4 separate regions of the Homo sapiens genome follow, and regions 2, 3 and 4 are each linked to region 1. Evidence: fine-mapped expression QTL. A gene starts in region 1. Each other region holds a variant in brackets. All regions are shown on one strand. Distances are from middle to middle. Region 1 holds the start of GPATCH1 (G-patch domain containing 1). Region 2 overlaps FAAP24 (FA core complex associated protein 24). Region 3 overlaps GPATCH1 (G-patch domain containing 1). Region 4 overlaps GPATCH1 (G-patch domain containing 1).

The links. PIP is the estimated chance that this variant, and not a neighbour inherited with it, causes the effect.
Region 2: its variant is fine-mapped to the expression of GPATCH1 in whole blood (TOPMed, PIP above 0.99). The same link has a PIP of 0.9 or more in neutrophils.
Region 3: its variant is fine-mapped to the expression of GPATCH1 in whole blood (TOPMed, PIP above 0.99).
Region 4: its variant is fine-mapped to the expression of GPATCH1 in whole blood (TOPMed, PIP above 0.99).

The regions. Positions count from the first base shown.
Region 1 is chr19:33,079,797-33,082,480 of GRCh38, forward strand. It overlaps GPATCH1 (G-patch domain containing 1), which reads left to right and starts at 1,385. Exons shown (of 20, transcript NM_018025.3): 1 at 1,385-1,470. The coding sequence starts at 1,398. RefSeq lists an enhancer at 1,280-1,609.
Region 2 is chr19:32,976,408-32,979,091 of GRCh38, forward strand. It overlaps FAAP24 (FA core complex associated protein 24), which reads left to right. Exons shown (of 5, transcript NM_152266.5): 5 at 24-1,822. The coding sequence ends at 275. RHPN2 (rhophilin Rho GTPase binding protein 2) reads right to left here. Exons shown (of 15, transcript NM_033103.5): 15 at 2,185-2,684. Among named protein-coding and RNA genes, the nearest start is that of FAAP24, 5.5 kb to the left of the region's middle. The variant C/A (reference allele first, on the strand shown) is at 1,097.
Region 3 is chr19:33,127,365-33,130,048 of GRCh38, forward strand. The region is part of intron 19 of GPATCH1 (G-patch domain containing 1); the gene reads left to right. Among named protein-coding and RNA genes, the nearest start is that of WDR88, 3.4 kb to the right of the region's middle. RefSeq lists an enhancer at 1-118 and a silencer at 1,685-1,829. The variant C/G (reference allele first, on the strand shown) is at 1,632.
Region 4 is chr19:33,116,187-33,118,870 of GRCh38, forward strand. GPATCH1 (G-patch domain containing 1) reads left to right here. Exons shown (of 20, transcript NM_018025.3): 16 at 1,639-1,855. Among named protein-coding and RNA genes, the nearest start is that of WDR88, 15 kb to the right of the region's middle. RefSeq lists an enhancer at 2,264-2,433. The variant G/A (reference allele first, on the strand shown) is at 1,474.

The sequences.
Region 1 (2,684 bases):
AAACATTGAGCACACATGGACATAAAGAAGGGAATGACAGGTGCCAGGCGCAGTGGCTCACGCCTGTAATACCAGCATTTTGGGAGGCCGAGGCGGGTGGATCACTTGAGGTCAGGAGTTCAAGACCAGCCTGGCCAACATGGTGAAACCCAGTCTCTACTAAAAATACAAAAAAAAAAAAAAAAAAAAAAAAAAATGGCCGGGTGCGGTGGCTCACATCTGTAATCCCAGCACTTTGGGAGGCCAAGGTGGATGGATCGCCTGAGGTGGGGAGTTCGAGACCAGCCTGACCAACATGGACAAACCCCGTCTCTACTAAAAAAAAAATTACAAAATTAGCCAGACATAGTGGTGCATGCCTGTAATCCCACCTACTAGGGAGGCTGAGGCAGGAGAATCGCTTGAACCCGGGAGGCGGAGGTTGAGGTGAGCCGAGATCGTGCCATTGCACTCCAGCCTGGGCAACAAGAGTGAAACTCTGTCTCAAGAAAAAAAAAAAAAAAACCACCACAACAACCAACCAACCAAACAAACAAAAATTTAGCAGGGCGTGGTGGGGTGGACGCTTATAATCCCAGCTATCAGGAGGCTGAGGCAGGAGAATCACTTGAATCTGGGAGGCGGAGGTTGCAGTGAGCTGAGATCGCGGCCACTGCACTCCAGCCTGGGCGACAGAGCGAGACTCTGTCTCAAAAAAAAAAAAAAAAAAAAAGGGAATAACACCAGGGCCTACTTGAGGGTGGACCTACTTGAGGGTGGAAGGTACGAGGAGGGTGAGGATCGGAAAAACTACCTATTGGGTACTATGCTTATTACCTGGGGAGGAAATAATCTGTAACCCAAATCCCTTGCGACATGCAATTTACCTATATAACAAACTTGCACATGTACCCCTGAACCCAAAATAAAAGTAAAAAATAATAATAATAAAAATAAAGCGAAGCCCCACGGGGCGAGCATGAAATCTGGGAGCTCAGCCATTTCCCTGGAGGTGGCTGGGTGGGCGGTGGGAGTGGACGGGGCTGGGCAGTGACTGCTGCCAAGGCAGGGGGCTGGCGCGAGGGACGGGGGTAGGGGGCTGGGCAGGCATCGGTGTCGCCTCGCAGGGAACAGTTGGGTGGCTTCCAGCTTATGCCAGGAGTCTCCTCCTCACCCGCACATCGCGGGGCTAGGATGGGATGTCGTGGCTGCCAAATCCTCCGAGGCAACTCCTGCCTGGGACGGCCTACCACAGGATGGGCCTGAGAATCCGGAGCGCAGGCTCGGGCCGCTAGGACACCTTCCCCCGCCCGCGGACCCAGCCTTCCAGCATCACCGGGGTTCGCGGAGGAGAAAGAGGAAAGGCGTTTGGCCTGCCAAGGCCGCCGTAGCGAGGGGGCGGGGCCCGGAAGAGCAGGATGGCGGCGCGGGACAGTGACAGCGAAGAAGATCTGGTCAGCTATGGGACCGGGCTGGAGCCTCTGGAAGAAGGTGCGGGCCGCGTGGGCCGGCGGAGCCTGTGGAAAACAGGCCAAGGGCCCAGGATTCGGGCCACAAAAGCACAAGTCGGTGCTGGACCATTGTTAGATCGTTCCCAGCGCTGGGAACACGGCGACGAGGGAGGCGTTAGCCGCGCTCTCGGGGTGCTCACCTTCTGCAGCGACAGAGAGAGGTTTACAGGGACGGGAGACACAAGCGTGGCCGAACAAGGGGGCGGCGAGATAGAAACAAGAAAATGACGGAATAGCTAGTGTGAGAGCGGGGGGTGCTCAGGCAGTGTCTTCCCCGAGAGAGGACGTTTGAGCTCAGACTTGAAACCGAGGAAGAAAACAACCATGAGCAAATCTGGAGGGAAAGCATTTCAGGCAGAAGGAACATAAAGTGGCAAAGGCCCTGAAGTGGGAGCCAGTTTAGGAAATTGAGGGGCAGGCAGGACGGGTATGGTTGCAGCAGATGACAGCGGGGGAGACAGGTAGAAAAGAATGTCAGAGGGGCTGACAGGGGCTGGATCTTACTTGGTAGGGTAAAGAGTTTGGATCTTGTACTAAGTGCAGGATTAGGGTTAGGGTTAGGGTCATGGGAAATTACACAGGGAGGGATATATATATGATTTTTAGAGACAGGGTTTTGCTCTGTTTCCCAGGCTGGTCTTGAACTCCTGACTTCAAGTGATCCTCTCGCTTCTGCCTCCCAAAGTGCAGGGATTACAGGCTTGAGCCACTGTGCTCGGCCAATTTTTAATGTTATTCTATCTTTGATGTTGAGAATACACTGGTTGGGGATGGGTAAGAGTGAAGCAGGGAGATTAGCAAAAAGAGGTCAGGAGATGATGGTGGCATGGATGGGACAGCAGTGGTGGTGGTGTGTAGTGGTCTGGGTGGAGATATATTTTGAAAGCAGAGCTGACCATACTTGCTGGTGGAATGTGGGGGTGAGGGGCAAGATGAATCAAGGTTCTCTCCTGTGTTTCTGGTCTGTTCCACTTAACGACTTGACTTGTTCAGCAAGTTATGTATTGAGTGTCCAGTAAGGGCTGTTGGCTGTGCTAGCCCTGTAGGGAAGGCAGAGGAAGAATGGTGGAATCATTGGGCCACAATTTATTTGCAGACCTCCTGTTGGTGGGGGTCCCCTCCCTTTTTTCACCCTGACCACATCCTGCCAGGTTGATTGTACTTCTGGGATATCTCCACTTATGCCCCCTTTAT
Region 2 (2,684 bases), 100 kb before region 1:
CTGTTGCTTTCATTGTGGTTCAGGTTCAAGAGCAAACCAAAGAGCCCAGTAAGAACCCTCTTCTCGGGAAGAAACGGGCCCTGCTGCTGTCTGAGCCTTCGCTCCTTCGAACCGTGCAGCAGATCCCAGGAGTTGGAAAAGTTAAAGCTCCCCTTCTCCTCCAGAAGTTTCCAAGCATCCAGCAACTGAGTAATGCTTCCATTGGGGAACTGGAGCAGGTGGTCGGACAAGCAGTGGCACAGCAGATCCATGCCTTCTTCACGCAGCCCAGGTGAGGGCTGGCCTCAGGGCCACGGCATCTTCTCCTGAGACCACAAACACCAGGATCTTGTTTTCAGCTTTAAAAACCAAGAGAATGGGCCGGGTGCACTGGCTCACGCCTCTAATCTCAGCACTTTGGGAGGCCGAAGACAGCGGATCATCTGAGGTCAGGAGTTCAAGACCAGCCTGGCCAACATGGAGAAACCCCTAAAAATAGGAACAATTAGCCAGGCATGGTGACAGGTGCCTGTAATCCCAGCTACTTGGGAGGCCGAGGCATGAGAATCACTTGAACCCGGGAGGCGGAGGTTGCAGTGAGCTGAGATCGTGCCACTGCACTCCAGCCTGGGCACCAGAGCGAGACTCCGTCTCAAAGAAAACAACAAAAAAAAAAAAAAAAGAAAAAGGATTTTCTCCAGCAGCAACCAGTGAAAGATGAGGCGAGGCTTGAATGGAGCCCGTGGGTCGTCCTGCCTTAGCGTCTGAGTTCAGCTTGTGAAGTTAGTGGGCCGCAGAGGGCACTGCCTTCATTCTGCTAAGACGAAAAGGGCTGGTGGGATCTTCGCAAGAGAGTCAGGGACTCACACTCAGCAAAAAGCATTAGGGCCGATTTTAATGTGCGACCTTGACCTGCATCTGTCATGGAAAGTGCCTTCTAAAAAGCTTCAGTGGTGGATGTGACCATCTGAAGGAAACAAATGTACAAGGAAGCACTGTGTATCCTAAGCCCTGGGTTCCCAGAGTTTCACCTGCTGTTCATCAGGTCTGGCCTTCATATACCCGTACTGCGAGGGCTGTTTCCAATGTAAATAAATAACTGCGCAACAGTTCCTTC[C/A]TCCTTTCCTTTGTTCCTCCCTCCCCCCGGCCTTTTTTTTTGGCAGATGTACAGTTTGTTTATAATCACTGCATATGTCTTCTGCACACAGAAAGTATGAAGTCTGAAGTTCCCACTTAAAGTTGAAAACTCAACGGCCGGGCATAGTGGCTCACACCTGTAATCCCAGCACTTTGGGAGGCCAAGGGGGGTGAATCACAAGGTCAGGAGATCCAGACCATCCTGGCCGACATGGTGAAGCCCTGTCTCTACTAAAAATACAAAAATTAGCTGGGTGTGGTGGCACACACCTGTAATCCCAACTACTCAGGAGACTGAGGCACGAGAATCGCTTGAACCCAGGAGGTGGAGGTTGCAATGGGCCGAGATTGCACCACTGCACTCCAGCCTGGATGACAGAGTGAGACTCCATCTCAAAAAAAAAAAAAAAAAATTTAAAGTTGAAAACTCAACATGCATGAGGCAGAACAGGCTGTGTTTGTATATGAAAGGCCCAACAATGGAAGGATACAAGAAAATGATGGCAGCAGCTGCATCTAGTGAGGGAAGCAGGGGCTGGGGATCAAAAGGTACAAATTGCCCATTCAAAAAATAGACACAGGCCAGGCACAGTGGCTCACACCTGTAGTCCCAGCACTTTGGGAGGCTGAGGTGGGAGGATTGCTTGAGTCCAGGATTTCGAGATCAGCCTGGGCAACATGGCAAGACCCCATCTCTACAAAAAAATCAAAAAAATTAGCCAGGCATGGTGGCTCATGCCTGTAGTCCCAGCTACTCAGGAGGGTGAGGTGGGAGGATTGCTTGAGCCCGGAAGGTTGAGGCTGCCATGAGCCACAATTGCGCCACTGTCCTCCTGCCTGGGTGACAAAGCGAGACCCTGTCTTGAAAAAAAGACAAAAACAAAAAATAAGCACAAAGATACCATCTGTCTTAGAAAATACTAAGATAACTTGACAGCTTTTTAAGTTCTGCTTTGTGAAATGTTAGTAACTAAAAAAATCAGAACATTAGAAACTGTGTGCATTGGGGAGAAACAATTTGAAAGAGGAGGGAATGAAAATGAAATAAAAGTAAAAAGAAATATTAACTCGGGTAAATGAATATGTTTATTTAAATATGTATACAAGCATGGCCCTAGGAGCAGCAGATACACTTTCCCAAAGGTGGTTGCTTCCTTTAAGATATTGCACAATAGAAAATAAACTCTTGTCAATCCTTAAAATTAGTCTTCAATGCTATGTATTTTAGCTATGTAACTTGTACTGTGTCAACAGTGAACCTTATTAGATTCACGGTGTCATCGAACTTATAGCAAGATAAAAATCAATCAGTAGGAATGTCATTTTAAAAAGTAAAATAGTGGGACGGTTGTGGTGGCTCATGCCTGTAATCCCAGCACTTTGGGAGGCTGAGGTGGGTGGATCATTTGAGGTCAGGATTTCGAAACCCGCCTGGCCAACATGGTGAAACCTCACCTCAACTAAAAATACAAAAATCAGCCAGGCATGCTGGAGGGCACCTTGTAGTCCCAGCTATTTGGGAGGCTGAGGTAGGAGAATCGCTTGATCCCAGGGGGCGGAGGTTGCAC
Region 3 (2,684 bases), 48 kb after region 1:
AAATTAGCTGGGCGTGGAGCGTGTGCCTGTAGTTCCAGCTGCTGGGGAGGCTGAGGCAGGAGAATGGCGTCAACCTGGGAGGCGGAGCTTGCAGTGAGCCGAGATTGTGCCACTGCCCTCCAGCCTGGGCGACAGAGCGAGACTCTTGTCTCAATAAAAAAAAAAAAAAAAAGAAAAGAAAATTCAGACCTTACAGCCAATGCTTAAAGGAGCCCTGACTAGTTCTCCAAACCTCTACTTTCTCCACAGTAACTTCTGCCATCAGTTTCATATGTAACCTTTAAGACCTTTTTTGTGCAACCACACACACACACATACACACTCACGTACATGGATGCACATACACATTGTTTGTTTCTTTTTTAGACGAGTCTCGTTCTGTCACCCAGGCTGGAGTGCAGTGGTGCGATCTTGGCTCAGTGCAACCTCTGCCTCCCGGGTTCAAGCAGTTCTCCTACCTCAGCCTCCCAAGCAACTGGGATTACAGGCACCCGCCCCCACACCCAGCTAATTTTTGTATTTTGTATTTTTTTAGTAGAGACAGTGTTTCGTCATGTTGGCCAGGCTGGTCTCAAACTCCTGACCTCAGGTGATACACCCACCTTGGCCTCTGAGTGCCAGGATTACAGGTGTGAACCACCATGCCTGGCCTATATACAGATTTTTGTGCACATTTTAAATATAAGTAATATAATTTTATATAGCATATATTTATAGGGTATGAATTTTATTTTATTTTTTGAGACAGAGTCTCGCTCTGTGACCCAGGCTGGAGTGCAGTGGCCTGATCACAGCTCACTGTAAACTCTGCCTCTCCGGCTCAAGGGATCCTCCCACCTCAGCCTTCAGAGTAGCTGGGACTGTAAGTGTGCACCACCACACCCAGCTAATTTTTTTAAAAAATCATTTTTTTTGAGACAGAGTCTTGCTCTGTCACCCAAGCTGGAGTGCAGTGGCGCGATCTTGGCTCACTGCAAGCTCCACCTCCTGGGTTCACGCCATTCTCCTGCCTCAGCCTCCTGAGTAGCTGGGACTACAGGTACCCGCCACCACGTCCAGCTAATTTTTTGTATATTTAGTAGAGACGGGGTTTCACCGTGTTAGCCAGGATGGTCTCAATCTCCTGACCTGGTGATCCGCCTGCCTTGGCCTCCCAAAGTGCCGGGATTACAGGCGTGAGCCACCACACCCGGCCTAAAAAAATCTTTTTTGTAGAGATGGGATCTCCTATGTTGCCCAAACTGGTCTCGAACTCCTGGCCTCAAGTGATCCTCCTGCCTCAGCCTCAGGCGTGAGCCGCTGCGCAGGCCTGCTCTTGCCAGTTTTATCTTTATTGGGAAGAAGGGTGTTGTGTGAATTCTTTGAGTGTCTGGCTTCTGAGATTCCTTCAGATGATGGTAGGCAGCAGTGAGGGGCTTGTAGTCATTGCTGTGGAAGATTCCTTCTTGTGAGCACACCACGGTATGTTTATCTCTTCTGTTGTGTGGATACTGGGTTTTTTACTTTGAGTCTGTGGAGCAGGGATTTTCAGCCAGTGTGACCCAGCTCTGTTTCAAATAGAACTGCCACGAACATTCCTATATGTATGAAATTCAGATTTAGGCCAGGTGCGGTATCTCACGTCTGTAATC[C/G]CAGCACTCTGGGAGGCCGAGGCAGGCGGATCATGAGGTCAGGAAATCGAGACTATCCTGGTTAACACAATGAAACCCCAAACCCCATCTCTACTAAAAAAACTAGCCAGGCGTGGTGGCACGTGCCTGTAGTCCCAGCTACTCAGGAGGTGGAGGCAGGAGAATCGCTTGAACCTGGGAGGTGGAGGTTGCAGTGAACCGAGATCGCGCCACTGTACTCCAGCCTGGGTGACAGAGACTCTGTCTCAAAAAAAAAAAAAGAAAAGAAATTCAGATTTAAGACTGACAACTTGGGGGCTGGGCATGGTGGCTCATGCCTGTAATCCCAATACCTTGGGAGGTCAAGATGGGAGGATCGCTTGAGCCCAGGAGTTCAAGACCAGCTCGGGTAATATAGGGAGACCCTGTCTCTATAAAAAAATTAAAAAAAAAAAAAAGACAACTTGGATGCTTTGGGCCCTGGAGTGAATGTATTTTAGTTCCTTCCCAAGGGTCATGCAACGGATGCGGTAGGTGAGTGAAACTGAGATTAAAAATTGCTTGTATTCTCAAGGCTAAATAAGACTAGGGAAAAAAGTTGCTTTTATAAGTGGTCTTAATACGAGGTGTGGGTGAGTGAGTCTCTGTGTGTTTTCAGGGTAATAGAAGAAGCATTTTAAGAACACAGATTGGCCGGGTACGGTGGCTCATGCCTGTAATCCCAGCACTTTGGGAGGCCGAGGCGGGCAGATCACAGTCAGGAGTTCGAAACAAGCCTGGCCAACATGGTGAAACCCCATCTGTACTAAAAATACAAAAATTAGCTGGGTATGGTGGCATGTGCCTGTAATCCCAGCTACTCTGGAGGCTGAGGCAGGAGACTTGCTTAAACCTGGGAGGCGGAGGTTGCAGTGAGCTGAGATCGCACCACTGCGCTCCAGCCTGGGCGACAAAAGTGAGACTCCATCTCGGGGGAAAAAAAAAAAAAAGCACAGATTAGGCAGTACTTCATTGTGGGTTATTGTGAGTGCATTTTGTAGGTGCAGACATGCTGCTGTGATATGGGGAGGCCTG
Region 4 (2,684 bases), 36 kb after region 1:
ACATATTACATGTACACACAATGAAAATGCCATCAAACCAGTGGTGATCATTTTTGCTTTTAGTCATTAAACATATTTTAAAAGAACCGATGCAGAGACAATAGCCTACTCTGTTTAATCAGATATTTTCTATTTCTGTTGCTCTTTCTTCATCCTTGAAGTTCCACGTTCCCCTCACCTATCATTTCTGTCTGAGGAACTTCCTTTAGCATTTCTTTTAGACCAGTTCCAACAAGTGATTCTCTTAAATTGCCATTATCTGAGAATGTCTTATATTTTGTCTTCATTCCTGAAGGATGTTTTTGCTGGATATAGAATTCTGGGTTGATAATTTTTGTTTTGTTTTGTTTGTTTGTTTTTTGAGACGGAGTCTCGCTCTGTCACCCAGGCTGGAGGGCAGTGGCGCGATCTCAGCTCACTGCAAGCTCCACCTCCCAGGTTCACGCCATTCTCCTGCCTCAGCCTCCCGAGTAGCTGGGACTACAGGCGCCCGCCACCACGCCTGGCTAATTTTTTGTATTTTTAGTAGAGACGGGGTTTTACTGTGTTAGCCAGGATGGTCTCGATCTCCTGACCTCGTGATCCACCCGCCTCGGCCTCCCAAAGTGCTGGGATTACAGGCGTGAGCCACTGCGCATGGCCAATTTTTTTTTAAATTAAACTGCTACTTCCTCCGGGGTTTCGTGATTTCTGATGAGAAATCTTCAACCATTCAAATTGTCCTCAGGCTGGGTGTGTTGGCTCACATCTATAATCCCAGCACTTTGGGAGGCTGAGGCAGGGGGCTTGTTTGAGGCTAGGAGTTTGAGACTACCCTGGGCAACATCGTGAGACCCCATCTTTTACAAAAAATTAAAAAACTAGTTGGGTGTGGTGGCATGCACCTGTGGTCCCAGCTACTCAAGGGGCTACGGTTGGAGGATCACTTGAGCCCAGGAGGTCAACACTGCAGTGTGCTATGATCGCACCATTGCTTTCCAGCCTGGGTGACAGAGTGAGACCCTGGCTCAAAAAACCCCAAAACAAATTATTATTCCTCTGTACATAATGATGTGATTTTTCTCCTAGCTGCTTTCAAGATTTTTACTTGGTCTTTGGATTTTAGCGGTTTGATTATGATGTATCTGGGTGTGAATTCTTTTGAGTTTATTTTGTTTGGGGTTTGTTAAGTTGCCTGAATCTGAGTTTGGAAATAGAACAGAGGCACAGTGCTCTACTGCATTTTTGGGGATCCTAGTAGCTGGGATTACAGACGCCCACCACCATGCCCAGCTAATTTTTGTACTTTTAGTAGAGACAGGGTTTCACCATTTTGGCCAGGATGGTCTCGATCTCCTGACCTTGTGATCCACCCGCCTAGGCCTCCCAAAGTGCTGGAATTACAGGGGTGAGCCACCACGCCTGGCCCGGTTTTGCTTCTTTGACCTCATCAGCACATTGTACAGTTGTTGACTCGGAAACACCACAAAAATA[G/A]AAGCTATGTGAGTGATCACTGTTTAGTTGGGTGGTGTGTGGCTATGGATACCCATGTACATGAGCATAAACATAAATATGTGTGTCTGGGAGTGTATTCTAGAATGTCTCCTCCCTTTTACCCTTGCCTCTGTATCCCTGACTCTTATTTCACTGTCAATACAGACCGTCAACAAAGATGTGGACGCACAGGCTGAAGGAGAAGGGAGCCGCCCATCCATGGACTTATTCAGGGCCATCTTTGCCAGTTCCTCAGATGAAAAGTCCTCATCCTCCGAGGATGAGCAAGGTGACAGTGAAGATGATCAGGCAGGCTCTGGGGAGGCCAACTTCCAAAGCTCCCAAGACACTGACTTGGGGGAAACATCATCTGTGGCTCACGGTATGTCAGTATTTCAGACTCGGGGATCTAAAGGAGAAGACAATGACTCTAGGACAGCTGCTTCTCTGTTTACTCTATAATCTTAAACCCGAATGATTAGCAATCAATGATATGTAATCTTTTATATGTATATAATTTTTTTTTTTTTTTTTTTGGAAACAGGATCTGGCTCTGTCCCCAGGGTGGAGTACAGTGGCGCAATCTTCGGCTCACTGCAGCTTCCACCTCCTGGGCTCAAGCAATCCTCCCACTTCAGCCTCCTGAGTAGCTGGGACTACAGGAATGTGCCACCACCCCTGGCTAATTTTTGTATTTTTAGTAGAGATGGGGTTTCACCATGTTGGCCAGGCTAGTCTCTAACTCCTGACCTCAGGTGATCTGCCCACCTCAGCCTCCCAAAGTGCTGGGATTACAGGCATAATCCCAGTGCCCGGCTAGTTTTCCAGACTTTTAAAATTTTTATATCTCTTCTATCTGAATATATAGTAATCTGCTTAAAAAACAAGATTATTAACGTGAATATGATCATTTATCTTCAAGGTTTTTTCTTTGATAATTTATTTTGAGTGAAACTTGTCTCCCGCAGTTCTCTGTGATGGGACATACATAGTCTTACATTCCTGATGGTTTGTAAGATTTTCCTTCTCAGATGGCCCTTTCTTGGGGACACATTTCTACTTTTCAGGTCTTAGGGGCGCTAGGCTACGTGCCCACGGGTGCACTTGGCACGCTGTACCTCAGCCATTGCTGCCCTTGGTTGCAGGTGCCCTCGTGTGACTGACTTCCAGCTCTGGAGTTCACAAGGGCAGCACCGGGGTCTGCGTGTTCA